2 separate regions of the Homo sapiens genome follow, and region 1 is linked to region 2. Evidence: fine-mapped expression QTL. Tissue or cell type: whole blood. Region 2 holds a variant in brackets; the other region holds the start of a gene. All regions are shown on one strand. Distances are between the middles of the regions.

What was found. PIP is the estimated chance that this variant, and not a neighbour inherited with it, causes the effect.
Region 1: it holds the start of NKD1, and the variant in region 2 is fine-mapped to the expression of NKD1 in whole blood (TOPMed, PIP 0.92).

The regions. Positions count from the first base shown.
Region 1 is chr16:50,546,946-50,549,445 of GRCh38, forward strand. It overlaps NKD1 (NKD inhibitor of Wnt signaling pathway 1), which reads left to right and starts at 1,451. Exons shown (of 10, transcript NM_033119.5): 1 at 1,451-1,633; 2 at 1,772-1,804; 3 at 2,477-2,500. The coding sequence starts at 1,609. RefSeq lists silencers at 1,094-1,543, 1,584-1,773.
Region 2 is chr16:50,487,988-50,490,742 of GRCh38, forward strand. No RefSeq gene overlaps it. Among named protein-coding and RNA genes, the nearest start is that of NKD1, 59 kb to the right of the region's middle. The variant G/A (reference allele first, on the strand shown) is at 1,296.

The sequences.
Region 1 (2,500 bases), 59 kb after region 2:
CAAATCCCCAGATGTCAAGTCCGCTATATAAAATGTCCTGTAGTATTTGCATATAACCTACACACATCCTTCTGAATACTTTAAATCATCTCTAGATTCCTTGTAATTCCTAATACAATGTAAATGTTATGTAAATAGTTGTTATACTATATTAAAAAGTTTTTTATTCTTTATTTTTGCTGTATTATTCTTTTTGCATATTTTCAGTCCACAGATGGTTGATGCCACAGATGTGGAACCTGTGAATAAGGAGGGCTGACTGTATTGAGTTAAGCGAAATATATTATTAATATTTCATCTATTTCTTTTTACTTCTAAAAGATGTGGCGACAAGAAAATTTAAAATTACAAATGTGGCCCACATTATATTTCTATTGGGCAGTGCTGCTCTAGAGAGTCGGCAAAAAGGGCAGAATGGAGCCTCCATTATACAGATCACAAAACTGAGCACAGGTAATTCACTCCAAAGGTCGGGGCTGGTCTCACTCTGAGCTGCGGGTTTTCTTTTCCCACGCCAGAGCTGCCTGGTGCCAGGACGAGCGTAACACGGACCCACAGTGTCCCCAGAAGGGGGCAGGCGTTCTGAGAGCCACAAAGGTGGGGTGGAATCCCTTGATGTCGACCGCCACCATCCCCCTCCCCCCGCGCGACCTCCCCGCAGAGACCTCCCCAGACAAAACAAACAAACCCTTGGGTCTGGCGAACTGCAGCGGGGAGCGGAAACCAAGGAAGATCAAAGACTCAGCGGTTACCCCCTTCCGGGCCGCGCAGTTTGGCAGCGCGCCCCGACCCGGGCGGGCACCCACGGGCCCCCGGACGAGGAGATCCCAGAGACTGGCTGATAACGGGGCGCTTTGGACATTTGTCGCTGCCTGGAGAGGGCTGGGCTCACACTGGCCCGGGGTGCGCTGGGGGCTCCTCCTGGACTCCCCAAATAAGAAACTAGAGGAGTGCGGTGGTGGGGGGCGGGTCACGGGGCGGGTAATGAACACTTTCTGCAGAAGGTAGGTCGTGGGAAGACTGGGAAAAGGCAGCGCTGCCGAAGCTTGCACCTGAGCAGCTAAGGTCTCCGCTCCCGACCTCAGTTTCCCCACCTGTAAATTGGAGCCGCCGAGTCCCGCCCTGCCCGTTTAGAGAGAACGTGGAGCGGAGGGAAGTGACAGTACAGTTAGCGATGGCCGGGCTGTTCTGTCCCAATACGCCTCCTGGACAAGCCGCCCCGCCGGGTCGCCAGCCCTGGAGCTCGGCCCCCGGCCCCAGACCGCGGCAGGGAGCGCGGACTGTGTCCCGCCCCTCCCGTCAGCGCCCCGCCCTCGTCCCCGCCCTGCCCCGCCTCCGGCCCCGCCCCCGCCGCAACCAGCCTTGCCTTTGATGCGCCGCACCGGCCAATGGGCGCGCGGGGAGGCGCGGGCCGCGGCGGCGGGCTGGGGGCTCGGCGCTCCCGGGCGTCAGTCGGGCCGCGGCGACGGCGGCAGGAGCGCGTCCCGGCGCCGCCTCGGGCTCCGCTCGGCTCGGGGGCTGCTTCGGGAGGAGGAGAGCCAAGGGAGGCGCCAGGCCCGCGGGCCGGGCGCATGGCTTAGGGACGCTCCCGGCCGCCGCAGCCCCAGCATGGGGAAACTTCACTCCAAGCCGGGTCAGTGCCCCCGCCCGCGCGCTCGCCCCGGGCCCCGCCGCCGTCGCCGCCGCGGTCGCTAACTCTCTCCCTTCCTTTCTTTCCTTCTCCCGCCGCCGCGGCTGCCGCCGCCGCCGCCGCCTCGCGATGTGCCTGCAGCCGCCGTGTGCAAGCGCAGGGAGAGCCCGGAAGGTAGGGGCGCGCGGGGCGCAGACCTCGGGGATGGACGCGGGGGACACCGCGGCCGCGGCAGAACGGCCCAGCCCGCCAGGTCTTATGACCAGGGCCACCCCGAAGCCCCAGTTCCGGCCACCGGCCCCCCAAGCCCGCTCCCTGAGCAGCCTTCGCGCCCCCTCCTCTGTCCCTCCTACCCGCTCCCCGCGGTCCTGCGCTCCCACCGCTGACCCTCAACCCCTCCCCCTCCCGCGTCCCTGCCCTCGGCTCTCACGGCACCCTCTCTTCAGACCCCCAAGCGCCTCCCCGCAAGACCCTGCCCCCTCTTCCTGCCCCCCGGCCCTTCTTCCGATATCCTGGCTCCTGCACCTACTGCGGCCCCTCTCCTGACCCCCAGCCCTCTCCTCCGCAGTCCTGGCTGCCAGTGCTCCCTGGTCTGATCCTAAACCCGTCCTCCTGGGGTACTGCTCACCCCTCTTGCCCCCTTCTGGCTCCTCGCTCCTAGGGCTTCGCTGAACCCCCCTTTACTTACCCGCGTCCCTCTCTTGGCTCCTGCCCCAGCCCGCGAACCCCCTCCTGGCCCCCGTGCCGTGGTCCTTCGCCTCCCACCGCGCCTCCTTCTTCCCTCCGCGGGGGTAACTTTTGGCACCTGGAGCCAGACTCAGGGGCTTCATGTCGTCCCCGTCCCAGGTGACAGCTTCGCCGTGAGCGCTG
Region 2 (2,755 bases):
TTATTCACTATCATGAGAATAGCATGGAAAAGACTTGCCTCCATGATTCAATTACCCCTCACGGGGTCCTTCCCACAACACGTGGAAATTCAAGATGAGATTTGGGTGGGGACACAGCAAAACCATATCAAAGTTGCAAGTGACAGACAGTCAGTTTGAATTGACATAAACAGCAGGGTGCAGTGGCTCACACCTGTAATCTCAGCACTTTGGGAGGCCAAGGCAGGAGGATCACTTGAAGCCAGGAGTTAAAGACCAGCCTGTACATTCTAGTATAGCGAGACCTCATCTCTACCAAAAAAACAAAACAAAACAAAACAAAAAAAACAAAAAAAAAAACAGTAAAAAATTAGCTGGACTTGGTAGTATGCACCTATAGTTCTAGCTACTTTGGTGGCTAAGGCAGGAGGGTGGTTTGAGCTCAGGAGGTTGAGGCTGCAGTGAGCTATGATGACATCACTGTACTCTAGCCTGGGCAACAGAGTGAGATTCTGTCTCTAAAACAAACAAACAAAACCACATAAAACAAATTGACATACATAAAAATTAGAAATTTATTGCCTCTGACATAATTAAAAGTCTCCGGGAGCATTTTGCTTCAGGTATGGCTGGAGTCAACTGCTTAAAGGATGCCATTAGGTCTGTCTCTGGCACCCTCCATCTTTTTTCTGTGCTTTCTTCAATTTGGTCTCACTGAGAGACTCTCCCTGTATGAGGTGGCAAACATGGCCTCTGCACCTCCAGACTGACATCCTCCCAGCTTGGCAATTACCAAGAAAAGCAAATACCATTCCGTAACAGTTCCATCTCAAGATTCTGCAACAGAGTCACATTGGCTCAGACCCACACTGGACCAATCACTGTGGCCAGGGGATGAACACTCTGATTGGCCAGACTAGGTCATGGGTCCTTCCCAAGGGCTACAGATGGATGCGGCTGGTTCCCCAAAGAAGATCAAAGTTACTAGAATAATGTAAAATGGATGTTATTCAAGTCAAACTAACAGGTGTGCCCCCTGCCCAGGGAATGCTTGGGACTGTCCATACTGATACCTTGCTTTGGGGTTTCCCTGGCTTTGGGGACCAGGCAGAGCTCAGGCAGTAGCTCTGAGCACACATAAACACCCTTTTAGGAGGGTCCCATGGCTTCTACCTCCAGAGACTCACCCAGAGTGGGGCGGTAAGAGGGAAGAGTAGGGGAAATCTGGCCATCCTTCCCCTCTGGGGCTGCTGGTGCCAAGTTTCTGGCTGGAGCTTCTCTTTAGAAGACTGGATCACAAAGCTCTGGAAATGGGC[G/A]TTTGGGATGGAAACACAGACACACAGTTAATTACAGCATCATGCTTGGCGCCACCCTAATTAAGGCAGTTCCCTGGTGGAGGCCAAGATTTAAAGTTCTCTCTTTCACAGTGCCTGGTGGCAAGCAGGCAGCCCTGTCTTCTCCCCTCCCTCTGAGGATCCCCTTCTTCCTGGCTGGGTGGGGAGAGCACCCGGCTTGCTGGCAGGCAGATGAGAAAGGCTGCCTAGGCTCTGTGAGAGGAACACATCTGCCCTCCCAGAACATGGGATAGGACAAGTAGGGACAGTGTGAGGGGCAGAAATGTCAATCCTGGATCTCTCCTGCTGGGAGATGGTGGGCGGGACAGTCATGTTCCACCTCAAAGAAAAAGGTTAGAATTATCTTGGCTCAGGACCTTCCTGAAAGCACGAAATGGCTTCCAGAGGGCACTGGTGACCTTGGAGGCCAGGAACACCATCAGATTGCCGTGTTTGGCTTCGTAGGGGATGTGGAACCCAATATGCTCAGCCAGACTTCCAATGTCCTTGGATCCCACCATGCTCTGACCCAACCTAATTTAAATAGAATAGGAAGGGCAGATTTGCTGCCAAAAATTATATTAAAAACTGCATAGAATTTCTCTTGAAACCAACAGAATTTCCTTCCATTATCCACAATGTAGAATTGTCTGGTTCCATTAGGAATTCACAAGATCACAGAGCTGGCAGGAACATAAAAATCACTTCATATTTAGAGGTGAAAAAATTGAGGCCAAGAGAGATTTCCCTATGATCCCAGGCTGTGTTAGATTAGTGTAGATGACAGCTGGCAAATAAATCTCACCTTGAGTGCCAATGCTGAATGATTGGACAGCTGGAGGCTGTGCTGTTAATGATTCTAAGGTCTTTATCTTGCTCAGTGGGAAATAGACTCTTGATTGGTAATGTCTGCCATGGGCACTGGAGGGAGGATGGTGGTTCATGTGCCAGGCTTTTGCCATCTTGTCTAGATGTCAAAGGGGTACTTGGACATTGACCCTGAAAGTAGGCAATCCTGGAGGTTTTGTCTGTGTGGATAAACTGAAACCCAGAATAGGTTTACCAAGAAGGGCATAAAATCCATGAAACTCTTCATTGAAGGGTCACCAAATTGCTATGAGGGGTTGATGGCCAGGATTACAAAGTGGGAATTCTCAAGGTTTTTCACTTTAATACAGTGCTTGGGCTTCTGATACAGCTTGGGCTCTGTCTCTGTGGCCCTCCCCAGCCTCCAGAGCTGTGTGTCCTCTAGGCCTGTGCTCCTTCAGGGGCTGTGGTCAGTGGTCCTGCTGGGATAGCAGGCCACAGAGGATGGAAAGCTTGAGTTGAAAGGCCAACGCTGAAGGCCTGAGTATTAGGAGATCTAAGTTCTCCTCCTGCATCTGCCATCATCACTGTGTAAACAGAACAAGCCTCTTCCTTCCTAGAGCCTCGTCTATACA